4 linked regions of the Homo sapiens genome follow. The protein of the gene in region 2 interacts with the protein of the main gene of each other region in a pairwise test. Each region holds a gene or a part of one and is shown on either strand. Other genes may lie near its edges.

The links.
Region 1: the proteins of GPR42 (region 2) and APOD interact in binary tests that used the Homo sapiens proteins (3 or more experiments, as listed by UniProt).
Region 3: the proteins of GPR42 (region 2) and SLC35E4 interact in binary tests that used the Homo sapiens proteins (3 or more experiments, as listed by UniProt).
Region 4: the proteins of GPR42 (region 2) and SLC30A2 interact in binary tests that used the Homo sapiens proteins (3 or more experiments, as listed by UniProt).

The regions. Positions count from the first base shown.
Region 1 is NC_000003.12:195,573,936-195,580,960, forward strand, and holds part of APOD (apolipoprotein D precursor), read right to left. Parts: intron 5,561-7,025; 5' UTR 5,527-5,560; coding exon 5,404-5,526; intron 37-5,403; coding exon 1-36. UniProt on the Homo sapiens protein: APOD occurs in the macromolecular complex with lecithin-cholesterol acyltransferase. It is probably involved in the transport and binding of bilin. Appears to be able to transport a variety of ligands in a number of different contexts.
Region 2 is NC_000019.10:35,366,374-35,373,487, reverse strand, and holds GPR42 (G-protein coupled receptor 42), read right to left. Parts: upstream 2,421-7,114; 5' UTR 2,370-2,420; intron 2,140-2,369; 5' UTR 2,129-2,139; coding exon 1,088-2,128; 3' UTR 526-1,087; downstream 1-525. UniProt on the Homo sapiens protein: G protein-coupled receptor that is activated by short chain fatty acids (SCFAs), such as propionate. Hence may play a role in the regulation of whole-body energy homeostasis and/or in intestinal immunity.
Region 3 is NC_000022.11:30,638,772-30,645,796, forward strand, and holds part of SLC35E4 (solute carrier family 35 member E4), read left to right. Parts: intron 1-7,025. UniProt on the Homo sapiens protein: Putative transporter.
Region 4 is NC_000001.11:26,043,112-26,050,574, reverse strand, and holds the start of SLC30A2 (proton-coupled zinc antiporter SLC30A2), read left to right. Parts: upstream 1-4,456; 5' UTR 4,457-4,678; coding exon 4,679-4,728; intron 4,729-5,357; coding exon 5,358-5,578; intron 5,579-6,130; coding exon 6,131-6,277; intron 6,278-7,023; coding exon 7,024-7,177; intron 7,178-7,463.

The sequences.
Region 1 (7,025 bases), on a different chromosome or scaffold from region 2:
TGGGATCTTCTCAATTTCGTACCATCTTCCGAGATACTGCAGAGACAACAAGCAGAGCAAAACCCTGTGGTTCTCTGGGGACCTGCAACTTCTTCCCCATTGTCGTGCAGACGCAGAGCCCTGTCCTGGGGAAGCCAGACAAAATGGGCCTCATTGTTCCCAGTGGCAACTGGGCAAGAGATTGATTGCAATGAGAATCTGTGACTAGGATGGGATGTGCGGGCAGGGGGTGAATGCTGAGTAAAGGGCTCTTCTCAGGGCCCACTTCAGCCAAAATCGCTGTGACATTCTAGACTCTGTAAAAAAAGGGGATGATGGGAAATACCTTTCATCTGAAACAGTGCACAATTCTACAAGTCATCTTTGAATCCTGTGCAAAGTCAGATGTGTTCGCTGTGGGGAGCTAGGACTCCAGAGCGCACGGAACTTTCCTCATCTGACCCTGAGGAGGGATTTAGTCATCAAGGCTTTGGAGAGGTGGTGGGGATTTGAAAGGTCTGTATCATGCTTTCTCTAGGGGCCTGCGCTCAGTCCAGACTTCAGGTGTATACAGTTAGCTTTAAAGGAAGCTGCCACTGTGTGGGGAAGGTCGAGGGAACCAGGCCCTCCTAGGCTGCCTGGCACGCGTTGCAGGGAGACCATACCAGTTTACAACCTCTGCGGAGGGCAGTTTGGCAATATCTAGCAAAGCTAAAAATACATATTATACTCTTTGGCCCAGCAATTTCACTTCTGGGAATGCATCCTCCTGATATAAGAAATGATGTATGTGTAAAGTTATTCATTACAGTACCGTTTGTAATAATACAAGATAGGAAACAGCCTATGTGAGCATTAGTAGGGGGCTGGGTGAGTAAACGATGGCATATCCAGACAATGGAATTTTACTTCCTCTTTCAAAAGAGTGGTATGCAGTGATTTCTAATATTTAATGACAAAAGAGTCAGGTACAAAATAGTGTATCTATTAAGGCACCTTTTGTGTAAAAATGGAGAAAATGTTTATTACGTTGGTTTTCTGTTGCTGCTATAATAAATTAGCACAAGCTTCAAACAGCACAGATTTATTATCTTGCAGTTGTGTAAGTCAGAAGTCTGACAGGTCTCACTGGGCTGAACTCAAAGTGTTGGCTGTGTTTCCCTCTGGGAGCTCTAGGGGAGGATCAGTTTCCTTGCCTTTTCCAAGTTCTACAGGCCGCCTACATTCCTTGGCTTGAGGCTTCCTCTATTTTCAAAGCCAGCAAAAGGAAGTCAGATCCTTCTCACATTGCATCTCTCTGACTCTTATGCCATCATCAAACCTCTCTCTCTTATCACAGCTGGGAAAGATTCTCTGCTTTTAAGGATTTATGTGATTAGATTGAGTTCCCCTGGATAATCAAGGCTAATCTGGCCATCTCAAGGCTCATAACTTCGATCACATTTGCAAAAGCCCTTTTCCCATGCAAAGTAACATTCACAAGGTTAGGGCGTGGACACCTTTGGAAGCCACTCTTCTGCTTACCACAGTTATTAAGTATTTGCTTGTATATGTATATATTATCTGTAAAATTACATAATACATGGTTTTTACTAGTTGCTACTGGGGAGGGAAACTGAGGTACAGAGGTGGGAGGGAAACTTTATGTGGTGTATTCTTTTACACCTTTAGGATTTTGAACAATGTAAATATATTTATCTAGTTAAAATACTAATTAGAATTTTGTTTTTTTGAGATGGAGTCTCACTATGTCACCAGAGTGGAGTGCAGTAGTGCAATCTGGGCTCACTGCAACCTCTGCCTCCCGGGTGCAAGTGATTCTCCTGCTTCAGCCTCCCGAGTAGCTGGGATTACAGGCACGTGCCACCATGCCCGGCTAATTTTTGTATTTTTACTGGAGAAGGGGTTTCACCATGTTGGCCAGGATGGTCTCAATCTCCTGACCTAGTGATCCCCCTGCCTCGGCCTCCCAAAGTGCTGGGATTACAGGCGTGAGCCACCGCGCCTGGCCTATTCTAGAAATTTAAAAACAAAAAGAGATGCGCTCACCTTCAGAGTCAGAACTTGAAAAGAGAGGATGCTGCACACAGGTGAGTATTGCTTCAGCCACGGCTTTCCGCTCAAATGTATGCCACATTCATGACCATAAAGTTCTACTCACTTATTAAAGCACAGCTTTCAATTAAAGCCACTGAACTTAACATTCATTTAAAGTACCAAAGAATAAGGTTAGAGGTTAACTGGTTTCATAGACATTCTCGGAAGAAGCTCCATTTTCTATGGTGCATTCAAATCTGTTCTATTTCTGTTAAAGTGAGTTTAGTGCCCCATAGTAAAAACCAAGGAAGCATGATTTTTCAGAAAAGAGGAAACTCAGAGCTTCCTTATGATCTCATATTATTTTTGCAAAGGCTTCTTAATCTTTTCAGATCTCTGGTCAGTATTGAAAAATAATCCTAGAAAAGAAGAGGTAAAACTCTATCTGTTTGCAGATGACATATAAAATATCCTAAGAAATCTAAAACAGAGACAAAACCAAAAACTATTGGATCTAATGAGTTAAGCAAGGTTACAAGATACAAGATTAATATTCAAAAATCAAATATATTTCTCAGCCAGACGCAGTGGCTCATGCCTGTAATCCCAGGACTTTGGGAGGCCGAGGCGGGTGGATCACTTGAGGTCAGGAGTTCAAGACCAGCATAGCCAACATGGCGAGGCCCCATCTCTATAAAAAATTTAAAAATTAGCCGGGCATGGTGGCACGCAACTGTAATACCAGCTACTCGGGAGGCTGAGGCAGGATAATCTCTTGAACCTGGGAGGCAGAGGTTGCAGTGAGCTGAGATGGTGCCACTACACTCCAGCCTGGGTGACAGAGCAAGACTCTGTCACACACACACAAAAATATATACATATATAAACATATTTCTCTACTTGCAATGAACAATTTGCAGATGAAATTAAGAAAATTCCATTTAAAAGGCCGGGCACGGTGGCTTGCTCACACCTGTAATCCTAGCACTATGGGAGGCCGAGGCGGATGGATTGCCTGAGCTCAGGAGTTCGAGACCAGCCTGGGCAACATGGTGAAACCCCGTCTTTACTAAAATACAAAAAAACTTTGCTGGGTGTGGTGGCGTGTACCTGTAGTCCCAGCTACTTGGGAGGCTGAGGCAGGAGAATTGCTTGAACCCGGGAGGCGGAGGTTGCAGTGAGCCAAGATGGTGATGCTGCACTCCACCCTGGGTGACAAAGTGAGACTCCGTCTCAAAAAAAAAAAGAAAAGAAAAGAAAAAGAAGAAAATTCCATTTACAATAACATCAAAAGAATAAAATATTTGGGAATAAATTTAACCAAAGAAACATAAAACTTATACTCTGAAAACTACAAAGTATTGTTGAAAGAAATTAAAGATGACCTAATTCAATGGAAAGATACACTATGTTGACAAGTTAGAAGACTTAATATTGTTAAGATGGCAGTACTCCCCAAATTGATCTTCAGATTTAATGCAATCTGTATCAAATTCCAATTGGATTATTTGCAGAAATTGACACGCTGATCCTAAAATTCATATAAAAATGTAAGGGACACGGAATAACCAGAAGAACAAAGTTGGAGGACACATGTGTTCTTATTTCAAAGCTTACCTCAAGGCTTTGATTACTACAAAGCTATAGTAATCAACACTGTGTGGTACTGGCATAAGTATAGACATATAGATCAATAGAACTGAGAGTGCAAAAATAAACTCTCACATATACAGTCAATTGATTTCCTATAACGATTTCCTACAAGAATATTATTTGGCAATAAAAGGGGATATAGTATTGATACATGCTACAACGTGGATGAACCTTGAAAACGTTCAGTAAACCAGTCACAAAAGACCACATATAGTATGATTTCATTTTTATCAAATATGCAGAATAGGCAAATTCGGAGACAGAAAGTAGATTAGTGGTTGCCTGGGGCTGGAAGGGTTGGAGGGGAGATGGAGACTCCGTGAATGGGTATGAGGTTCCTTTTCGGAACAGTGAAATGTTCTAAATCGATGGTGGTGGTGATGGTTGCGTAACTCTGTGATGATACTAACAACAATGGAAAGTGAAAAGCTACTTTAAACAAGTGAATTACGTGCTATACAAATTATATCTCAATAAAGCTGCTATTTTTTAAATCCTGCTTTAATTCTCAAAGGACTTCTATAAATACAGATCAGTTATCATTTCCAAAGTGCTTTGGGATTTGTATCCAAAAGCGAAAGTATAACTCAGATTCCTTGGATGTTTTCTTTAAAGCCTCTCTGTGGTCTATCAGAGTTACCTGAATAAAGGGATCAGCCTGTAAGTGGAGCAAGTCAGTGTAGACGTTAGTGTACTCTATGGCCTCTTCCTACCACACCTGTATCTCCTGATCCCATGGATGGTGCTCCTTCTCCCACCCAGCGTCCCCTCAGAGGTCCCAACACTCATTCACCTTGAGGTGCGAGTGTATGATAACAACTTCGATGTTACTGTTGCCATTCTTAAAAGAGATCCAAACCTTCTCCTAAGGAGAGGAAGTCTTAAGGGTGAGATTCCAGGCTTGAGTAGCAACAGTGGGAGCCTGTGAGTCCTGTCCTCCAATAGCTGCCTCTTTCTGCCGCCCTCTTCCTTCCCCTCCCGCTAAACCCCAGGAAGAAAGACCATCTATGGAGGAGCTCGTTGTATTGATGACATTTTGGTGCAGATACCAAGAAAGCCCCCTGGAGAATTTTGGGCTTTCCTGAGCCCTGTTTGAGTGACCTTTGGGTGCCCTGCACTGCTGAGAAGCCTGGTTTTGAATCCTACTTGCATTTACCAGCTGCGTGAGCTGGGGAGGGAGATTCCGATGCTGCATCTGTAGAACAAGGATAATAGCTCTGTAGCAGCTACTATGGTTCCCTGGTCCTGTTCCCCTCAGCCCACCTCTGAGTTCACCGCAGCCACGGTAGGCAATTCCCAGACACTGCCAGCCTCCCACCTGAGACCCTGTGTCTCTCCTCTGCCAGGGGGCTCAGCTAGAGCCACGGATGCTCCCATGACCTGCTGGCAGCAGCTGTGGGACAATCGGAGGGGCATGCTCCACGTGTCCTCAGAGGGTGCCCAGTGTGACTGACCCTGACGGCCCAGGGCGACAGCTCAGGAACGCACCCTTTATTGCTTCTGTGCTGTCTCCGACTCACCTTCCCACCTGCTCTCGTGCGTCCCGGGATCATCCCAAACCTCTCTGCCTGCAGTCTTTATCTCAGCAGATGTCTGCTTTGGGGAAACCCCAAATAAGATAAATACTTGTCCCAAGGTGTGCAGTGGAAATTAAAGCAGCATAATTACATTGAACCTTGTAGAACGCTTATTCACAGCGGAGGCAGCAAAACAAACGGGAGGTTCGCCTTTTACCTTATTCACGTCAAAATTCTCCTGCACCGGAGGATTGGGGCACTTCCCAAGATGAAATGCTTGTCCCTCTGCCGCACCGAAGAGGCCAGCCAGTGCGGAAAGCAGCAGCAGCAGCATCACCATCTTGGGGCTGGGTGGCTGGAGAAGGGACCTGGAGCTGCGGGAACGCAAAGCAGCTGGGGTTGTCATTCTGAGCCTTCTAAGGCCACACAATCATGAAGTAAGAGTGCTGTGCCCATGGTCCCCTCTGTGGGCGGTCCCTCCTCTTCTCTCCCCAGCCCATGTGAACCCTCATCCTGCAGGGGAACACCTGCCTGTCCTTGTTGCTGTGAGGCCTTCCTCAGAGCCTCTGCACCTCCACGAGGGCGCTCTCTGCCTGGTATTCTGGTTTGTTGGATTGATTTTCACCCCTGTCCCACCTAATTATGCATCTCCCAGGATGGGCACTGTGTCTAGTTCTCCTCAGAATCACCCACGGACCTCAAAGTGTCGGCTCAGTAGATACTTGTCAAATGAACAGAAACAGCGTGGAGAGGGCTATGTAAAGTGGGGGATTAAAGCCTCCAAGTGAACCACGAAAGACACGAAACCAAACCAAATGTTGCCCAACACTTAGTGTCCTCTGAGATTCTTCAGGGAGATGCCTCTCTGACACCATCCCTCCCCCTGCCCTCGTCTTGCTGGCTGTTCTACCAGCCCAAGAGTGCGCTTGGAAACCTTAACAGGGAGCGGCCTGCTGGGGGCTCCAGGGTCACCCCAGCCAGGTTCAAATTGTGACTCTGCCCCATACTAAGTATAACTGTGTCCAATTTATGCCTTAGCTTCTTTGTCTAGTAAATGGGAATAATTATCATTCCTAGCTCATGAATTTTTGTGAGAATTAAATGAGATAATATACAGAGAGTACTTAGAGGAGTGTCTGATACAGAGTAAATGCTCAATAAATGCTAGTTATTGTTATTATCAAAAGCAGAAAGATGATGGTATTTCCCAGGTTTCTTCTTTCTTTTCTTTTCTTCTTTCTTTCTTCTTTTTTTTTTTTTGACATTCTGTTGAGGGTTTTTGTTTTGTTTTGTTTTGTTTTGAGATGGAGTCTCACTCTGTCACCCAGGCTGGAGTGCAGTGGCACAATCTCGGCTCACTGCAACCTCTGTCTCCCGGGTTCAAGTGATTCTCCTGCCTCAGACTCCTGAGTAGCTGGGATTACAGGTGTCCACCACAACTCCCGGCTAATTTTGGTATTTTTAGTAGAGACAGGGTTTCACCATGTTGGCCATGCTGGTCTCAAACTCCTGACCTCAGGGGATCCACCCGCCTTGGCCTCCCAAAGTGCTGGGATTACAGGCCTGAGCCACCGCACCCGGCCTGTTGAGGGTATTTTTCATAGATGAAGTTCATTAAATCAGAGAAGGACTGTCAGCTGATGTGTAACTGTGCAACAAGCATTTCAACCCCAAGAGTCCTTTGGCAGCAGAAGCTGGCTTTGAAGCGGGGCAGCAAGGCAGGGAGACAGAGGCTGCAGGACTGTGTGCAGGTTCTGGGCATTGGAAGCTCCCCTGTTTCCTTCACTGACTCGCTGTCAATTTGCTCCTTTCCTTGTGACTCCTTGCCTGTAGCTTGCA
Region 2 (7,114 bases):
TCTTTACTGGGGAGAGGATGCACTCACACAGATACTCACTGTGCTTTGCATTTACTTCTGTTCCTTATCACAGCCTGTTTGCATTTGTCCTGCTCAGACAGCCTCATCTGACTGGGCCAGGTGACCACAGGTGACACACAGATGGAGAACAGCAGAGTGGCTTAGGGGCATGGGTGTCAGAGTCAACTGACACCAGCTTCTGGTCCCACTTCAATCGCCCACCAGCTATGGGATCTCGGGTAGGAGATGTCACCTCTCTGGGCCACTCCTTCATCTGAAACTGGGGATAATGCTGGTACCTCTCACAGGGCTATTGAGAGATAGAAGGAGATGATGTGTCAGGCCAAGTCCTTTAGACAGGGCAGCTGTTATTTTCATCCCTGCAAGCCAGATCCTCTCCCAGCATCCAGGCATCCTGGTGTTTGGCCCTTTTCCTCCAGAGTCTGGTGTTTTCTCCTTCCATCCACCAGTCCCACCCGGCCCAAGCACACCACCAGAACAAAACAGGAGAAGAAGGAAACACTGTTCTCTTTTGCTTGCTTCCACATTTATTTGGGTAATTTTTCTTCTGTCATTGTTCATAAATGTCTCTGATGATCCACATTTATTGAGCAATGGGAACTTTCTGGAAAAGGCACTGTGGGAGCAGAATGCGGCCTCATCCCTGGAGCCCTGTCTCCCCCGCTCCTGACTCGCTGGCTGGGAGCAGCTCTGAGGATGGGGTTCTCCCCTCTCCTGCCCCTGCCACTCACTGGGCAGCCCCCTCAGACCTGGGCACTGCTCTTAGCTCCTCTGCCACCCTCAAGAAAACACAGGAGCTGCCTGCTGCTATGAGGACCTCATTGTTCTCCAGAGCAGCCTCTCACCCTGACCCCTTCCCAGAGCCCAATCCATAGTGTGTGGGTGGATGGGGATGGAGGTGAGATCGAGAGCTGGGCTTTAGCGCGCATACCCTTAGGGAGGCTAGATGTCTACTCTGCCCCCAAGCCCCATCGGGCCCCAGCTCGCCACTCCAAGTCCCTCCTGGCGTGAGCGAGGAAGCGCCCTGAGGATGACACGCCAGCTACACCCTCCTCCCCCGGAGGACCTAGTTTTCAGCACAGGCCACCTGGCCACCAGTTCCACAGCCCTGTGAGTGTTCACTGGTCTTTCTTTCAGCTGGTCGGTCCGCTCTCTGCTCCTCCCCTCCCTTCTGCTCCTTCAGCTCCATGCTGCTCTCCTGCTGCCACTGGCCCCAGAGCCCACACAACCTCCTCAGCAGCTCATGAAAGTCGGCTTGGAACCCGGAGGAGGAGAAGTAGTAGACAAAGGGGTCGACACAGGAGTTCAGGGTGCTGAGAAGCGTCACGTAGATCCTCCACACCGGGCTTTCACCGCAGATATAGCCCACGACATGGGACACGTTGTAGGGCCCAAAGCAGACAAGGAAGTTGAGCAGCGTGGCCGCCACCAGCCCCGCCACCCTCCTCTGCCGGCGGTGGCTGCCCCCTCTGCCGAGGATCCACACCAGGCGGCTGTAGCAGTAGCTGGTGATGATCAGCGGGACCACAAAGAGGACCACAGCCATCTCCAGCCGCACGGGCAGGAGGATGGCTAGCTGGTCCTTCCAGAACTCCAGGTAGCAGGTCCCATTGGTGCCCTGGCTGTGGGAGATGTCCCCTGAGAATTCTATGACGTAGACCACGCTGCAGTGAGCAGAGGCCAACAGCCAGCAGGCCACACTCACCAGACCTGCCTGCCCCAGCCTCGGCCGGGTCTTGTACCACAGTGGGTGGGCCACACTCAGGAAGCGTTCAATGCTCACAGCTGCCAGGAAGAGGGCGGTGAGATAGATGGTGGTGAAGAAGATGAATCCAGAGAGTGGGCAGAGGATGAAGGGCAGGGGCCAGTGCATGCCATTGGCTGCCTCCACCATGCGGAAAGGCAGGAACAGCAGCAGGAGCAGGTCCGAGGCGGTCAGGTTGAGCAGGAGCACGTCCACGGCCACCGGGCGGCACCGCAGCTTGCCCACGAAGACCACCAGGGCCAGCAGGTTGAGGGGGAGCCCCACCAGGAAAGTGAGAAGGTACACCGAGAAGACGAACCAGTGATTGCCGGAGAAGTAGGACTGGTCGGGGCCTGTATCCATGGTGGTGGCCACTGGTGAGAGAGAGTAACATGGAGTTGGTAGTGGGGGCCCTAACGGCCTCTGGCCAGCAGCATCTCCCCTAAAAGGGCACGAGGTCACTACGCCCACCCCTCTTGTCTCTGGGTGCCTTCCAGGCGGGGTCAGCCTGCCTGTCTTCCTGAGCATGCCCTGTCCCCTGTCCCTTCCCCAGCAGAGAAGCACCAAGGTGCTCCTCCACCCAGCCCCTCGGGCCCAGGCTCACCTGCTTCTTTGAGACCCCAAATGCTCTGCCGCACAGCACCTTGCTGTCTCTCCAGACCTAGTGCAGTTGGCTATTTATCCGGCAGAACTGATAAAGACCTGGCCGTGCCCATGACATCACTCACTGTTGAGCAGTGGCACAAAGATGCCTTGAGCTCCGTTGCCAGGGCTGGTCAGTATGCAAAAAGGGGAACAAATTCCACAACTGCGTGCCTCCCTCCTTGCGCAGCCTCAGCTGGGATGCTCCAAACAGGCCCCAGCTGACGTCTTCTTCCCCTCCCCTCTCTTCCACTTGAATTTTGTCTGATTCTCTAGAATGGCACTTATCCAGTTTGCCTTTTAAGGGCACAAAGCATGAGCCAGTGACAGACTGGACTCCGTGAGGTCTGTTCCTTCCTGACTTTGTGATGTGGGGGAAGAGATGTGTCTCTTCTTCCTCCCCTACAGAACAGGGATTGTCATAGTACCTGTACCATATTTCAAAGCATGAACACATGCAGATTAAAACATATATACAGGTAGATTAAAATGTTAATAATATAGGTCAATTGCTTTTTGAAAATATTTATTTTAGATTCGGGAGCACATGTGCAGGTTTGTTACATGGGTATATTGCATAATACTGAGGTTTGGGCTTCTATTGAACCCATTACCAAAATTGTGAACATAGTACCCAATAGGCAGTTTTCCCACCCTTGTCCTCCGCCCTCCCTCCCCCACTTTGGAGTCCCCACTGTCTATGGTTTCCATCTTTAATGTTTGCGTGTACCCATTGTTTACCTCCCACTTAAAAGTGAGAACATACAGCATTTGATTTTCTGTTTCTGTGTTAATTCACTTAGGATCATTCACTTAGGCCTCCAGCTGCATTTATGTTGCAGCAAAGGACATGATTTCATTCTTTTTTATAGCTGCATAGTATTTCGTGATGTGTATGTACCATTTTTTCTTTATCTAGTCCACCATTGATGGGCACCTAAGTTGATTCCATCACTTTGCCATTGTGAATAGTGCTGTGACAAACATACACATGCAGGTGTCTTTTTGGTAGAATGATTCCATTTTATGAAAAATGACATTGATAATTTGGTAGGAATTGGGTGGAATCTGTAGATTGCTTTGAGCAGTATGGACATTTTAATGATATTGATTCTTCTAATCCATGAACATGGAATGTTTTTCATTTATTTGTGTTTTTTAGTTCTCCTTGTAGAGATCTTTCACTTTCACTTCCTTGGTTAGATGTATTCCTAGGTATTTTATTTTTGTGTGTGGCTATTGTAATTGGGATTCTGTTCTTTATTTGGCTCACAGCTTGACAATTGTTGGTATATAGTAATGCTACTGATTTTTATACACTGATTTTGCATCCTGAAACTGCCAGTCATTTATCAGGTCTAGGAGTATTTTGGAGGAATCTGTAGGGTTTTCTAGGTATAGAATCATATCATCAGTGAACAGAGATAATTTGACTTCCCCTTTCTATTTGGATGCCTTTTATTCCTTTTTCTTGCCTGATTGCTCTGGCTAGGACTTCCACTACTATGTTGAATAGGAGTAGTGGGAGTAGGCATCCCTGTCTTTTTCCATTTCTTAGGGGGAATGCTTCCAACGTTTGCCCATTCAGTATGATGTTGGCTGTGAGTTTGTCCTGGATGGCTCTTATTATTTTGAGGTGTGTTCCTTCGATGTTTAGTTTTTTGAGGGTTTTTATCATGAAGGGATGTTGGATTTTATTATATGTTTTTTTCTGCATCTATTGAGATGATCATATAATTTTTGTTTTTAATTTTATGTGGTGAGTCACATTTATTGATTTGCATATATTGAAACATCTTTGCATCCCAGGAATAAAGCCCACTTGATCATGCTGAATTATGATTTTGTCATGCTGCTGGATTTGGTTTGCTAGTATTTTATTGAGGATTTTTGGATCTATGTTCATCGGGCTATTGGCCTACAGTTTTCTTTTTTCACTGTGTCCTGCCAGATTACGATATCAGAATCAGACTGTTTTTGTAGAATGAGTAGGGAATCTCTCCTCCTCAATTTTCTGGTAAAGTTTCAGTAGGATTGGTACCATCTCTTCTTTGCAGGTCTGGTAGAGTTTGGCTGTGAATCCATCTGGTCAAGGGCTTTTTAAAGGTGGTAGATATTTTATTACTGATTCAATTTTGTAACTCATTATTGGTCTGCTCAGAGTTTCAATTTCTTTCTGGTTCAATCTTGGTTGTATGTTTCCAGAAATTTATTTGTTTCCTCTAGATTTTCTGATTCATGTGAATATAGATGTTCATCGCAGTCTCTGAGGATCTTTTGTATTTCTGTGGAATTAGTTGTAATCTTGTCTGTGTTATTTCTGATTGTGCTTTTTTGGAGGTTTTTTTTTTTCCTTTGTTAATCTAGCTTGCAGCCTATAAATCTTGTTTATTCTTTCAAAGAACCAATTTTTCATTTCATTGATCCTTTGAATGGCTTATTTGTCACAATTTCGTTTAGCTCTACTCTGATTTTAGTTATTTCTTTTCTTCTGCTAGCTTTGGATTTAGTTTGCTCTTGTTTTTCTAGTTCCTTCAGGTGTAATGTTAGGTTATTAATTTGAGATCTTTCTAACTTCTTGATGTAGGCATTTAGTGATATAAAATTTCCTCTTAAAACTGCTTTTGCTGTATCCCAGAGGTTTTGGTATGTTGTGCCTCTATTTTCAGTTGTTTCAAAGAAGTTTTTGACTTCTGCCTTAATTTTTTGACTTCTTCCTTAATGACTTACCCCAAAGTCATTCAGGAAATAGTTGTTTAGTTTCCATGTATTTGTGTGATTTTGAGAATTCTATTTTTATTCCACTGTGGTCTGAGAAGAAGGTTGGTATAATTTTCATTTCTTTAAATTTATGGAGATTTGCTTCATGACTAAGCATTGGGTCAATCTTAGAGTATCTTCTGTGTGCAGATGAGAAGAACGTATATTTTGTGGTTGTTGGGTAGAGTATTCTGTAGATGTCTATTAGGTCCATTTGATCATGTGTCCAATTTAAGTCCAGAATTTCTTTGTTAGTTTTCTGCCTCAATGATCTGTCTAATGCTGTCAATGGGCTGTTGAAGAACCCCACTATTATTGTGTGGCTGTCCATCTCTTTTCTTAGGTATCGTAGTAATTGTTTTATAAATCTAGGTACTCCAGCGTTGGGTGTTTATATATATAGGATGTTAAATCTTCTTGTTTAATCGAACCCTTTATCATTAGGAAGTGCCCTTATTTGTGCTTTTTTACTGTTGTTGGTTTAAAGTCTGTTTTATCTCATACAACAATAGCAACCCTTTGTTTTCCATTTGCATGAGAGATCTTTCTCCAACCCTTTGAGGGTTTGGGTATCATTATATGTGAGATGGGTCTCTTTAAGACAGCAGAAGGTTGGGTCTCATATTTTTATCCAATTTTCCACACTATGTCTTTTAAGTGGAGTGTATAGGCCATTTACATTCAAGGTTAATATGTGAGGTTTTGTCCCTGTTGTGATTTATCTTCGTGTTGTTAGTTAATTACTTTGTAGTCTTGGTTGGGTAGTTGCTTTATAGGGTCTGTGGGCTTTGTACTTATGTGTGCTTTTGTGGTAGCAAGTATCATTCTTTTGTTTTCATGCTTACAGCTTCTTTGAGCATTTCTTGTTGGACCAGTCTGGTGGTGATGAATTCTCTTACCATTTGATTGTCTAGGAAAGATTTTATTTCTCCTTTGTGACACTTAGTTTGGTAGGATATGAAATTCTTGGCTGGCATTTTTTCTTTAAGAAGCCTAGAAGGCTGGGCGTGGTGGCTCACACCTGTAATCCCAGTACTTTGGGAGGCTGAGGTGGGTGGATCACAAGGTCAGGAGTTTGAGACCAGCCTGGCCAATATGGTGAAACCCCGTCTCTACTAAAAATACAAAAAAATTAGCCGGGCATGGTGGCACATGCCTGTAATCCCAGCTACTTGGGAGGCTGAGGCAGGAGAATTGCATGAACCCGGGAGGCAGAGTTTGCCATGAGCCAAGATCGCACCACTGCACTCCAGCCTGGGCAACAGAGTAAGACTCCATCAAAAAAAAGAAGCCAAAAATAGGCACCCAATCTCTTCTAAATTGTAAGACTTCTGCTAAGAAATCCACTGTTATTCTGAGTGGACTTCCTTTATAGGTAATTTGGCTCTTTTTTCTAGCTTCCTTAAAGATATTTTTCTTTCATGCAGTCTCATGACTATGTGCCTTGGGGATGGTCATTTTGTATAGTACCTCTCAGGCAGTCCCTGAATTTCTTATATCTGCATGTTGACCTCTTTAGCAAGATTAGGGACATTTTCCTGAATTATACGTTAAAATGCATTTTCCAAGTTGCTTATTTTTTCTTCTTCTCTGTCAGGAATGCCAGTGGGTCATAGTTTGGTCATTTCCCATAATCCTATACTTCTCAAAGCCTTTGTTCATTTCTTAAAATTATTTTTCTTTATTTTTGTGTGACTAGGTTAATTTAAAAAATTCATTCTGCCTCTGAAATTCTTCTACTTGGTCTAGTCTATTGTTGAGGTGTCCAACAGTATTTTGAAATTCCTGTAGTAAATTTTTCAATTCCAGAAGTTCTGCTTGATTCTTTTTGTGTTTTGGTTCTTTCTCTCTATATATAGTTTTTTTCCCCCCCTATATATATATCTTTCACATCCTGGCTCATTTTTACGGCTTCTTAGTATTGCATTTCAACTTTCTCTTGGGTCT
Region 3 (7,025 bases), on a different chromosome or scaffold from region 2:
ATTGCACTCCAGCCTGGGTAACAAGAGTGAAACTCTGTCTCAAAATTAGCCGGGCCAGGTGGCATGCACCTGTAATCCCAGCTACTGGGGAGGCTGAGGCATAAGAATTCCTTGAACCCGGGAGAAGGAGGTTGCAGTGAGCTGAGATTACACCACTGCACTCCAGCCTGGGCGACAGAATGAGACTCTGTCTCAAGAAAAAGAAAGAAGTTCAGCCCAGCGCAGTGGCTCACACCTGTAATCCCAGCACTTTGGGAGGCTGAGGTGTATTGGGGGAAATTCAGCCAGATATCGGGCGAAATTCACCCCTGATATTTCACGTAGGTTCTTTTCTGTATTACCTAAGTGTCAGCTGGTCTGAGAAATAAAGGGACAGAGTACAAAAGGGAGAAATTTTAAAGCTGGGTGTCCGGGGGAGACATCATATGTCGGCAGGTTCCGTGATGCCCCCTGAGCCATAAAACCAGCAAGTTTTGATTAGTGATTTTCAAAAGGGGAGGGAGTGTACCAATAGGATGTGGGTCACAGAGACCACGTGCTTCACAAGGTAATAGAATATCACAAGGCAAATGGAGGCAGGGCCAGATCACAGGACCATAGGACCGGGGTGAAATTAAAATTGCTAATGAAGTTTCGGGCACGCATTGTCATTGATAACATCTTATCAAGAGACAGGGTTTGAGAGCAGACAACCAGTCTGACCAAAATTTATTAGGCGGGAATTTCCTCGTCCTAATAAGCCTGGGAGCGCTATGGGAGACTGGGGCTTATTTCATCCCTACAGCTTCGACCATAAAAGATGGCCGCCCCCCAGAAGCAGCCATTTTAGAGGCCTACCCTCAGGGACGCATTCTCTTTCTCAAGGATGTCCCTTGCTGAGAAAAAGAATTCAGCAACATTTCTCCCATTTGCTTTTGAAAGAAGAGAAATATGGCTCTGTTCCACCCGGCTCACCGGCAGTCAGAGTTTAAGATTATCTCTCTTGTTCCCTGAACATTGCTGTTATCCTGTTCTTTCAAGGTGCCCAGATTTCATATTGTTCAAACACACATGCTCTACAATTTGTGCAGTTAACGCAATCATCACAGGGTCCTGAGGCGACATACAGCCTCCTCAGCTTACGAAGATGATGGGATTAAGAGATTAAAGATAGGCATAGGAAATCACAAGGGTATTGGTTGGAGAAGTGATAAGTGTCCATGAAATCTTCACAATTTATGTTCAGAGATTGCAGTAAAGACAGGCGTAAGAAATTACAAAAGTATTAATTTGGGAAACTAATAAATGTCCATGAAATCTTCACAATCCACGTTCTTCTGCAATGGCTTCAGCTGGTCCCTCCGTTTGGGGTCCCTGACTTCCCGCAACAGAGGTGGGAGGATCACGAGGTCAGGAGATCAAGACCATCCTGGCCAACGTGGTGAAACCCTGTCTACTAAAATTACAAAAATTAGCTGGGCGTGGTGGCGCCTGCCTGTAATCCCCCCTACTCGGGAACCTGAGGCAGGAGAATCACTTGAACCCAGGAGGCAGAGGTTGCAGTGAGCCGAGATCACGCCACTGCACTCCAGCCTAGGGACAGAGCTAGACTCCATCTCAAAAAAAAAAAAAAAAAGAAGAAAGAAAGAAAGAAGTTCATGATTTGCACAGAGGTCACGGGGTCCCTAATGATGTGAAGCATGGTCTATGTGACTCCAGATGCTGGCTCTGATGAAAGAGGGCAGCAGGGCTCTGGGCAGTTTAGGGCCGAGGCTCCAGGCCCAGACCCACTAGATCATTCTGCCTGAGGGCGAAGGCTGGCTTCCTGCCTTTCCTACTGAGGGGCATCTGAGTCGCAGCCTCTATCCTCTCTCTGCCTCAACCCAAGGAGACATAGGGGAGGCCAGGGTGCCCACTCAGGGTGGGGAGGCCTGGGTTCCAGCCATACCTTTGCTCATATTTGCTGGGCAACCTTGGGCATATTGGGATTTTATCTGGGCCTCAGTTTCCTCATCTGTCAGTGGAGGAGAGTTGGAGTTGATGGAGTCCAAGGGGCCTCTTGCTCTCCCTTCGCCCTGAGATCCTGTGACCCAGGCCTGGGAGAAGGAAGTGGGCACACCAAGAGTGCTGGGCTGGGATTGATGACAGCCCACAGCCAGGGAAGATTGAAGTCAGAGTTCAGCCCTGCCCTGGCGTATTCAGAGCTGACACAGAGGCCCTATCTCTATCCTCCCTGGCTCCAAGGCAGGGTCAAAACCCAGTTCTATTTTTTGCCCTCAGGTTACATGAGAGCTAGAGGCTGAGCACAGGCATGAGCTCTGGGCATGAGTCTGCACTGGGAAACCTGACCTGTGGGCACCCCTGTGCAGGCCACAGGGCTGTGAAGGTCCTAACCTCAAGGCCCATGCTGCCCCTGCTGAGAAAGAGTCAGTGCTTCTCACACTGGGACCCAGGCAGCCCCAGCCTGCAGGAGGGGCAATGGCCGGCCAGGCCTCAGGCACTTGGGCATGGAGTGGCATGTGCCTGGCATCGGGCTGCATCTTGACTCCTGCCAGCTCCCTCCTTCCCTCCCTCCCTAGTCTTAACTCCTGACCCCTGGGAGGTTGAGTCCTTGCTCTGGGCTCCTGCGGTATCCTCTGCTCCCCCTATCATGGTTCCAAATGCCATGTATGATCACCACCTGGTTACCTGTCTGCTGCCTGCCAGACAGATTTGGGGCAATTCTATGTTCCTGGAACCTAGCCCTGGGGCCTTGCAGAGGATACATAATTTGTAAATTATAATTTTTAAATTTTATTTTATTATTTTTTTTTTTGAGACAATCTCTCTCTGTCGCCCAGGCTGGAATGCAGCAGTGCAATCTCAGCTCATTGCAACCTCTGCCTCCTGGTTTCAAGCAATTCTTGTGCCTCAGCCTCCTGAGTAGCTGGGACTACAGGCTCATGCCACCGTCCTGGCTAATTTTTAATTTTTTTTTTTTTTTTTTTTTTTTTTTAGAAACAGGCTCACTATGTTGCCCAGGCTGGTCTCAAACCCCTGGCCTCAAGTGATCTTCCCTCCGGGCCTCCCAAAGTGCTGGAATTACAGGTGTGAGCCAACATGCCGACAGATTTACTGATGGCTCTGACAGGCGAGCTGATCTCATAGACTGGTTGGGCTGCCTGATTCAGGAGGGAGTTTAGGGGGCTAGAGGCCCCACTAACAGAGATAGGAGCCCTGCAGAGATGGGGAGGAACAGACTTGAGCCAGGGCCTGAGATAGGCTTTTTTTGCTTGTTTGTTTGTTTGTTTATGAGAGGGTCTTGCTCTGTCATCCAGGCTGGAGTGCAGTGGCTCACTGCGGCCTCAATTTCCCAGGCTCGGGCAATCCTCCCACCTCAGCCTCCCGAGTAGCTAGGACTATAGGCGTGCCTCCATGCCCAGCTAATTTTTGTATTTTTTGTAGAAATGGGGTTTCATCATGTTGCCCAGGCTGGTCTCCAACTCCTAGACTCAAGTGATTTACCCACCTCGGCCTAAAGTGCTGGGATTACGGGCATGAGCCACCACACCCAGCCTGAGATAGGTTTTGAACAAAAGGTTTCTACTGCAGGAGGCTCCAGGAGAGGCACCAGGGCCAGATTCAGACGTGAGTGTACGTGGCTGATGCCAGCTCCATTCCTGAGAGCAGAGTTTGTGGGAGCAGAGGGCAAGTATCCAGAAAGAAGGCTGGGCATGGTGGCTCACGCCTGTAATCCCAGCACTTTGGGAAGCCAAGGCAGGCAGCTCACTTGAGGTCAGGAGTTCGAGACCAGCCTGGCCAGCATGGTGAATCCCCGTCTCTACTAAAAATACAAAAAAAATTAGCTGGGCATGCTGGTGCATGCCTGTCATCCCAGCTACTCGGGAGGCTGAGGTAGGAGAATCTCTTGAACCAGGGAGGCGGAGGTTGCAGTGAGCCGAGATATCACACCATTGCACTCTAGCCTGGGCAACATCTCAAAAAAAAAAAAAAAAAAGGCCAGGCACGGTGGTTCACACCTGTAATCCCAGCACTTTGGGAGGCCAAGGTGGGTGGATCATGAGGTCAGGAGATTGAGACCATCCTGGCTAACACAGTGAAACCCCGTCTCTACTAAAAAATACAAAAAAATAGCCAGGTGTGGTGGTGGGCACCTGTAGTCCCAGCTAGTCGGGAGGCTGAGGCAGGAGAATGGCGTGAACCCGGGAGGCGGAGCTTGCAGTGAGCCCAGATAGCGCTACTACACTCCAGCCTGGGCGACAGAGTGAGACTCCGTCTCAAAAAAAAAAAAAAAAAAGTATCCAGAAAGAGGAGAGCCCAGGCAGCTGTTGGCAGGGCCAGCGACTTCCCTCCTTCTTGGGCCAGTTGTAGGCCCAGGGAGCCTGCACAAGGAGAGGGGTTATGCCATCCTCCTACCCACAGAAAGGGTGGGAAGTGGGGCGCCAGCCTGCTGAGCTTGCTCTCAGCTGGACTCCCCCGCCCGTCCGCATCACAGAGCAGGCGGACTCAACCCCTCTGAGCTCTCAGGCTGATGGGGGAGATGCACTCAGATATAGAGATCATGATGGCAGAAAAGAAGTTCTAGAGTCAAAGTGGTCACACGTGTTGGGGAGCGGTTGCTTCTTCCTGGGGAGCGCTGAGAAGGCTATCTAGGGGAAGAGACATGCAATGATGATGACAATAATGTAACCATGAGAGCAAACATTTGTTGGGGCCTCCCTAGGTGCCCACACCATGCCCAGCTCTTCATACTGAAGGAGGAGGAAAGGGTGATCTGGGAATGGGAAACAGGCCGTGCCAGGGCACAGGGTGTCAGCCAGCAGGAGCAGGGTGTGGGGATCATGCCAGCTGCCGGGGTGAGCCGGCATCAAGGACATCACACAGGGCATCAGGCCCTGTGTTCAGCACCTCACATGTGAGGGGGCTGTTGCTACCCGAGCCACACGACTTAAGGAGACTGAGGCGTGGAGAGAGGGAGACAGTATCACACAGCCCGTGAAAGAGCAAAAGGGCCAAGCCAATAGCAAGCAGACAGGGTTTAGAGAAGGGTCAGCTGTTGTCTGCATGTGGCAGAAACTTGGGCATGTTCCAATAGAAGGAGAGGTGGCAATGAGGCAGGACAAACAGGCTGACATTTTGGGGTCCCCAGGTAGAAGCCAGTCACCGCCTCTGACAGCGAATGGCTGCCCTTTCCCTGGGCTGCAGGGAGGGGAGGTGGAGGATTGGGTGGGATGTACAATAGGTGTGAGGAGATGGGTGGGAAGTTTAGGACCTTCCTGCCTGGCTGCCTTGCAGAGGGTGAAATTTACCAAAGGTGAAGTTCACCTGAAAACCCAACCGCCTTCTTGTGATGGGACGTTTAATGTGCAAGCCACAGGTAGCTCATAACACTGTTAACTTTCGAGCCTGCGAGCAGGAGGCATTCTGATTATCTGTTCATTTCTAGAAACGCTTGAGCCAGAGGGACTGTTTGTTGCCTAGAGAACAAAGCTAAAACATCGGAATGAAATTGAGAGAGAAATAAAATTTCCTATTCTAAGCATAGCCTATGAGTAAGCATCTCTGTGGCTTTTTGGAAAGTGTGTGTCAGAAAATGCATAGAGGCTCACAGAGGCCTGGGAGGGGACCTGTGTCGACTACTCATCTCTCTCCACTAACTTGGCAAAGGCCCCATGCCATCATTGCCCTCATGCAAATAATGTCATTTCAGCCAGGCGCAATGGCTCACACCTGTAATCCCAGCACTTTGGGAGGCCAAGCTGAGCAGATTGCTTGAGTCTAGGAGTTTGAGACCAGCCTGGGTGAACCAGATGACGAAACCCCATCTCTACAAAAAATACAAAAATTTTCAGGGGTGATGGTGCATGCCTGTAGCCCCAGCTACTTGGGAGGCTGAGAAGGGAGGATCGCTTGAGCTCGGAAGGCAGTAAACTGACATCGTACCACTACACTCCAGCCTGGGCAAGAGAACCAGACCCTGTCTCAAATAATAATAATAATGTCATTTCGCCTGGGCAAGAGAACCAGACCCTGTCTCAAATAATAATAATAATGTCATTTCGCCTGGGCACCCCTTTGTGAATTGGCTGGTGGTGGCATGTGTACACGTAGGTACACACAGATACACAGTCACACATAGGCAAAGCAGCAAGATCCCCTCCTGCCTTACAAAGTGAAAAGGTTTCCTCTTAGTCCTGGATTCATCTTGACAAGCCACAGTATTAGCAGGAAAAAAAAAAGATGCTGATTATCAGTTATAAACAGTGAGTGAGAGCCAAGATCCCACAATGACCTTTTGTCCCCTTGTCACTCCAGTGGTCATAAGTGAATGAGGCAATGAATGGGTCACACTTTTGACCCAATTTATTATTTTCTTTTATAAACTCTTCTTTTTTAATGCAAAGGCCCCCATGTGGCTAGTAAGTGGCAGAGCTGGGACCCTCTGCTGGCCTGCCCTTTCATGGTGGCTGGAACTGCAGTGTGGGAGTGATAGGGGCTGAGGCGGGAAAGGTGGTTGGGGCCAGTTGATGCAGAGTCTTCGAAGCTGGGTGAAGAACCCTGGGCTGGGTGCACTGGCTCAACGCCTGTAATCCCAGCACTTTGGGAGGCCGAGGTGGGAGGATCACCTGAGGTCAGGAGTTCGAGACCAGCCTGGCCAACATGGCGAAACCCCGTCTCTACTAAAAATACAAAAATTAGCCAGTTGTGGTGGCGCATGCCTGTGATCCCAGCTACTTGGGAGACTGAGGCAGGAGAATCACTTGAACCTGGGAGGCAGAAGTTGCAGCAAGCCGAGATCATTCCACTGCATTCCAGCCTGGGCAACAGAGCAAGACTCTGTCTCCAAAAAAAAAAAAAAAAAAAAAAAGAACCTAGGACCTTCAGGGCCAGGGCAGCCCCTGAAGATTTATTTTTATTTTTTAGAGACAGGGTCTTGCTCTGGTCATTGAGGTGGAGTGTAGTAGCATCATCATAGCTCACTGTAGCCTTCCTCTGGGCTCAAGTGATCCTCCTGCCTCAGCCTCTCAAAGTGCTGGGATTACAGG
Region 4 (7,463 bases), on a different chromosome or scaffold from region 2:
AAGATACAGGAGAAACTGTCCATTTTTAGGCTTCAGTTCAACAAAGTATGGATGGCCGTGTAGAAATACGGTTGGACAAAAGAGCCTGATCTAATGCTGATAGACTGAGTGGGGAACCCAGCGAGGCCTGTCTGTCAAGATTCTTTTCGGCCTCTCTGCGCAGCATTCCTTCCTTCCTCATATGGCGCAGGACTCTCTCTGGATGGGGGTCTTCTGACCTACAATCAGACAAAGGTCAAATAATTTCCTATGGCCAATTTTACACAGAAAGAAAGAGGAAAGTTAGAGTAATATTTTTAGGTTTTAGGGCAGGCTTTTGGTGAAGAGGGATTGTAGTTTTTATAGCTAGCCTTGGGGGAGAATAAGGGACCAGAGACAGGAGGGCAGGAGAAGGTCAGAGAGAAATGTTTGCTTCCGAGGGAGGCCTTCATTTCGGGGTATTGTTTTCTGAGACCCTATGAGGCACACTCCCAAGGCCAACAGAGGGAAGGAAAATGGAAGCGAGGCAGGCAAGGAGGGAAGCAAGTACAAGGTGTCACGTGGCTGAGCTGGCCACAGCTTCACCAAAGACTGGGCTGGCTGCTTAGTCATGTGAGATGTTTCCAGCAGGCCATAAAGAACAGAACATGATTCAAAGTCCTTCATCTAGAGAAGAAAAAAAAAAAGAAATGTGTCTGCTGGCTCCTTCCTGTCTCCCGCCTCCCATACTGTTCATTCCACCTTGACTTCAGGTGGTGCAGGTGCAGGGGCAGCAAGGTCACCTGCCCCATTGGGTGGTACTTCAGCTGAGTCTGGAGATGGTGGGAGGTGCCAGGGCCTCCATGGTCCAGTTGGGTTGGACAAGGGTGGGGCAGCTGCTGTCTCCACCTCAGTGAACACAATGGGGCCAGGCTGGTGCCCAGACTCACGCCAGGAAAGGCCAAGTCAGCCACCGGCAGTAGGGGATGAATTCATGACTGTGGCCCAGTAGCATCCAGGATCTCCATGAGCAAGAAGCCAAGGGCCTGGAGAGAGGCAAGGCTGAGCGAATCCGAGGCAGCGCATTCACCGGGGCTGATACACCAGAGACTTACAACTTTGAGGAGCATTGCAGAGCCTGTTCCCCCTTTTAGACATTCAGATCACAGTAGCAAATTAAGGGGTCCGAGTCGTCCCACCGTAAAGAAAGCGAATTAACTTTAGATGAGGACCATCAAGTTCATGGTGCTTGGAATGCTGCCTGACCCTAAGTCTTTCATTTTGTGTGTGTGGACTGAATTTCCCAACTTATTCATATGACATCCTCCGGAACTAGAGTTATGTGGAACTTGCTTTAGGACAGTGCTCAAAAACCCTCACAACCTCTGCCCATTTTCACTTCTGGGAGTTTGGTAGGTTTTCTAAGGCTAACTCAGTTCCTAACTTTGAATTTCAAAGAATCAGATTTTGCTCTCATTTCCAGTCCTTTCTCAAGTTCTGAAGCATTTTGTTTTAGTTTTTAAAACACGGTGTAATACACACACACACACCCTTAAAAGTGCACAAAACTCATCGTAGAGTTTAATAACCTATTGTAAAATGAAACCTTATGTTACTACCACTCAGGTGAAAAAAAAAAAAGAACATTGCCAGCCCTCAGAAGCCCTCCATGTGCCCCTCTACCACATCACAGCTCCTCTTTCTGATTGGGGCAGCGGAAAGAGGAGCGGTCAATTTTTTTGTTTTTTTGACAATCACATACTTGTTTTTCTTTATGGTTTGGTCTCCTAAAGTATCCTCCCATAGAAAACTGAAGGGATTTGAGTCCAGAAGGAGAAATTTGAGGCCAGAAAGAGAGAGGTTTTCATCACCTTGAAATCACAAGAATCAGTATTATAACGTGTGTATGTTCTGTTACTTCTCCAGGCTACTGATCATGTAAGCAGCAAGCATTTCAGCCCCGTATCTTGTCACTTATGGAAGAGAAGAGAGAGCAGTTGAGACTTTGGGTAATCAGTTAAAGATTAAATTCCAGGAAGATACCTGTTAATTGCAACTAAGGGGATCTTTCCTTTGCCATAGGAAGGGCTCTTCCTGTACTTGCAAACTAGAACCCTTAAGATGGTATGAAGGGTTCTTGATCAACATGCTTCCTTTAAAATCATGCTGCAAGAGAGGACAGCTGGCTTCAAGGGGGTTCTTTCAATGAATCTTGAATACAGCTCCATGGGCTGCTACATCAGAATTGCCAGGAAAGGTTTATTTTTCCCCAAGTCTTTAATTCTGAAACTTTTTTTTTTTTTTTTTTTAGACAGAGTTTCACTCTTGATTGCCCACGCTGGAGTGCAATGGCATGATCTCGGCTCACTGCAACCTCTACCTCCCGGGTTCAAGTGATTCTCCTGCCTCAGAATTCTGAGTAGCTGGGATTACAGGCGCCTGCCACCATGCCTGGCTAATTTTCTTATTTTTAGTAGAGACGAGGTTTTGCCATGTTGACCAGGCTGGTCTCGAACTCTTGACCTCAGGTGATCCGCCTGCCTCAGCCTCCCAAAGTGCTGGGATTATAGGCGTGAGCCGCCGCACCCAGCCAACATTTTTTAAATACTGAAAAGTAGAGGGAATAGTTATAGTGTACCCCATTTACCCATCACTCAGTTTCAACAGCTGGTGACATATTTATTTCTTCTATACCAGTACCGTACTCTCCCCACTGGGATTATTTTAAGGCAAAACCCAGATGACATTTTATCCCTAAATACTTTAGATAAAGGTGTTCTTTGAAAAAAATCATAACCTCAGGACCAGCCTGGCCAACATGGTGAAACCCTGTCTGTACTAAAAATACAAAAATTAGCTTGGCATGGTCGTGGGCACCTGTAATCCCAGCTACTCAGGAAGCTGAGGCAGGAGAATCACTTGAATCCGGGAAGCAGAGATTGCAGTGAGCTGAGATTGCAGTCGAGCCTGGGCGACAGAGACAGAAATGAAACTCTGTCTCAAAAACAAACAAACAAAAAAACCACTATACATAAAAATGAACAATGATGCCACAATAGCACCAGAGAATTTTATAAATACAGATTCCCAGGCCCTGCCCCAGACCTACTGAATCCTGGAAATATTCAGGCTCCACACCCAGAGATTCTGGTTCGGTTGGTCTGATGCAGGGACCTGTAACCTGCGTTGTAACACCTTCTCCAGGTAATGCTGAGCCTGCTGGTGCTCAGAGTAGACAGACCTGGAGAAAACCAGGGTGTCTGAGGTTTTCCAGAAGAAAACCAGAGTCCAGAGAAGCAGAGAGGCACTCAGTGAGGACCCAAGCAGAGCGGGTGCACCTCACATCCTCACTCCTGGCACCCCGTCTCCTACAAGATGAGAGACTGAAAGAGCCCCTTCCTGTCCCCAGTGGTGTGGGCAAGAGGCCTGCACCTCTGACTCTTGGCTCTGTGAAAGGCCATACCCACCAAGCCTATGGTCCTAGCGACAAAGGGTGCTGGGGAGACGAATTGACCAGACAGGGAGGTCTCCAGCAGCTTCTTTCTACACAGAGGGCACCTGTCAGAGGCCAGCGTGGGGGCCACAGGCTCCCCAATCCCCAAGAACCGCCAGGGAAGGAGGCTGCTTCAAGTGGGTGGGGCACCAAGCTGGCCAGGAAGGACAGGGCTTCTCCCAGCGGTACCAACACGGTGGCACCTCCGGCCTGCATCTCCCAGGCTTGCTTGTCAGGCTTCCTGGGGCTCCCAGGAGCCGCTGCGGGGGAGGGGAGAAGGGGTGGCAGCAGTGGCAGTGGTCGTCTCTGCTCCGATGGTGACTGCCGATGACACTGTTCTCTGTGCGGGTGGAGACAAAGCCGGCCACTCCAGATTCTCCTGCGCGCAGGAGAGGAGGAGCTGGCGCTGCTTCAGTGGCGAGGATGGGTCGATCAGTCCCAGCCGGTCCTAGGGAGAGACACTGCCCCAGCCTGAGGGCGGCGCAGCCCACCCCACCCCAGGACCCTCCTAGCAGGAGGACAGGAACGCAAGCCGACCTCGGGGGGTCTCCGGCCTGAGAGGGGAACATGATCAAGCCCAGGGCAGCCGCCAGTCGGAGGGGGCAGACGCGGCCCCAGTAGCCTCTGGAGACCCTCTTCCGAGGCAAGGAGCCACATTCCTGCCGTCGGGACCACCAAAGCGGATTTCTACAAACTAAAGTCGAGAACTTTTCGGCGGCGAGGCGGCGCACCCCGCGCGGGAGAGGGGGCGCAGGCGTCACCCCGTCCTCACTCAGCAACACCCGGCGCCGCGCCGGGCGAAGGCTGGCAAACTTCTCGCGGCCGGCAGGTGGGCTCCGCGGGCCCCATGGGCGCAGGCACAGGTGTGCGGGGCCACAGCCGGGCCTTTTGCAGCCGGCGACCGCCCCCCCTTCCCCGCGGGCTTTTGCACACGACGCGCCGACGGCAGCTTCACACGGGTTGGCGAGGGCCGGATAAAGCCGGCGGCCGCGGGGCGCAGCGGCTGACCCGAGACACGGGAGCGCTTGGCACGCGGAGCCAGAGCCGGAGCTGCAGCCGCAGCGGGAGCCGGGGGAGCTCAGGGGCCGCAGGAGCCGGGCCGGAGTGAGCGCACCTCGCGGGGCCCTCGGGGCAGGTGGGTGAGCGCCACCCGGAGTCCCGCGCGCAACTTTCAGGGCGCACTCGGCGGGGCGGCTGCGCGGCTGCCGGGACTCGGCGCGGGACTGCATGGAGGCCAAGGAGAAGCAGCATCTGTTGGACGCCAGGCCGGCAATCCGGTAAGGCGAGAGCCTGGGGACGGGCGGGAATTTTGGCGGCAGCCGACGCACCTCCGCATTTGCCATCCTAGCAGTGGTTGGTTTTGGCTGCGGCTTGAGCTGGGACCATGCAGGAGGGGTGGGGTGAGGTGAGGGAACGAAGATAATGGGCTGTGGCCCAAGGACCGTCTCTCCCTTGGGGCGCAGCCCAGATTCTGACCCCTGCCCGCGGGGGGCCTGGGGCCGGGGGATTGGCGGTTCCCATGCCTGGAGTCCCGCCCCGCCCAGCACTTTGCCCCAGGCAGCCCCGCCCCGGGGAGGCCCTGTGTCCCAAGTGCGCTGGAGGGGGCCTGCTGTTCTCCCAGAGCCTGCGCTCTGTTCCTTCCCCGCGCTCCACTGGACAGCACGCCCCTTGGCCGGTTCCCAGGGTCTTCACCTCCTCTGGCCTCTGAAGGGCCCCGGGCCCCAGGACTCCCATTCCCCTATCATCCCCGTCTGAATACAGGCTTCTCACCTCTGGTTTGTCGAGCTCGGAGCGTCCTTAGCTATTTTTCCCAGTGGACACAAGGCCTCACAGAGAAATGGGACTAGAGTCGGCCCTCCTTACCTCATCTCAGAGCTGAGCGTTCCCTCTCTTCCCCTCTGGCCAGGTCATACACGGGATCTCTGTGGCAGGAAGGGGCTGGCTGGATTCCTCTGCCCCGACCTGGCCTGGACTTGCAGGCCATTGAGCTGGCTGCCCAGAGCAACCATCACTGCCATGCTCAGAAGGGTCCTGACAGTCACTGTGACCCCAAGAAGGGGAAGGCCCAGCGCCAGCTGTATGTAGCCTCTGCCATCTGCCTGTTGTTCATGATCGGAGAAGTCGTTGGTAAGCACTTTTGGGCTAATTAAATGAAGTTGGTGCATGGATAGACTGGATGTTCCCAGCAATACTGACACTAAAAGCCCCAATTACTGAACACACACTACAGTAAGCCTTTATATACACATTATCTGATGCAGGTCTAACAACAACCTGTGTTCTCACATGGGTGACGTTATTCTCCTTACTTTACAGATGATGAAACTGAGGCATGTTCAGGTGAAGTAACTTGCCAAAGATCACGCACAACTCGTAGCTAAGGGAAGGCCTGAATTCCTAGAAGGGAAGAGCATTTACTGAGTATCTGCTATGTTTTCCAGTCCCTATTTGAACTTGATGTGCACATTCACCCTCTAAGTAGATATTGGTGGCCCATTTCACAGAGAGTGGAAGTTGAGGCTCAGAGAGAGTAGGTCACTTGTCACGGTGGTACAGCTCATGGGTAGAGAGATCTTGAGCCCAGAATGTCCTCTTCCAGAGCCTGTGGTCTCCCTGCTGCACACACAGTCTTGGGAGCCAGCTCTCTGGGGGAGCTGATAAGGACCCTCCACCCTGCAGGTGGGTACCTGGCACACAGCTTGGCTGTCATGACTGACGCAGCACACCTGCTCACTGACTTTGCCAGCATGCTCATCAGCCTCTTCTCCCTCTGGATGTCCTCCCGGCCAGCCACCAAGACCATGAACTTTGGCTGGCAGAGAGCTGGTGAGGATCGCGGTTTGGCTGGAGATGGGGTTGAGAGAGAGGGTGGGTTAGAACAGGGGTTCTTAGGTGGCTGTAATGGGTGGATCCCCCCTTCCTCCCCTGAGTGAGGCCAGGAGGGTGATCTGGATGGGGGAAGAGGATGTCAACCATGGCCTCTGTCCTCTGGGAAATCCTAGTCTGATGGGGGAGCCCTGGTCCCAGTCATCCAGGAGCTCTCAGTCTGCAGGGAAGCAAAGTTGACCTTCCTAAGAAGTGCAGTAGCCAAGCTTCAAGAACAAATGACAATGGCATTAACACTGCACATAACTCTGTGGATCAGCTCTGGGGGGAGGGGAAGGCCAGCAAAGGCTGCTGGAAGATATAGGCTTTAACCTCTCTTCCGTTCACCCTGGACTGCATCGTCACCTTCCTCTTTGTGGGAGATGGCCCAGCCTGTCTTCCCCAGAAGCCTCAGTTTACTAGCTGAACAAAAGGCACATACTTTAATAAGTCAGCTTCTTTACATGTACAACCAAAAAGGTGGACTCAGATGATGACTTATTAGTTCCTTCTAGCTCTTACATTCCTAGATATATGAGGGGTGGGGTAAGGGGCAGCCATACCGGCCATACCTTCAGCAGAGCCCAGTGGGACCCAGGCCCTGACTTTGTGTGGGAGGTGGGTGGGGAGGATCCTGAAGGAAGGGGGAAGACTCCTTAGCTCCAGGCCCATGCCAAGGTGGGTGTTGGGGTTGGGTTCTTCCTCAGAGATCTTGGGAGCCCTGGTCTCTGTACTGTCCATCTGGGTCGTGACGGGGGTACTGGTGTACCTGGCTGTGGAGCGGCTGATCTCTGGGGACTATGAAATTGACGGGGGGACCATGCTGATCACGTCGGGCTGCGCTGTGGCTGTGAACATCATGTGAGTGGGGCCCCAGTTTCCCTCGTCTCCCCTCCTCCTCCCGCCTCTCACACCCACACCTATGTCTGCTTTGCGGAAAGAGACTGTGCCACTTTCCAGCATACGCTACAGGGACAGAACTTCCCTAATGGTCTGAGCTCTGGCACCTGGAACACCTGGGTCCTACCTTAGGCCTAGGCCAAGAACACTGGGAGCTGTAAATCGGAGTCTTCATCCACTCTACCCACTCCCTGATACATGTCAGGGACTAGCCTTGGTGGCTTCATACCTGAAGTGGGGCGGGAAG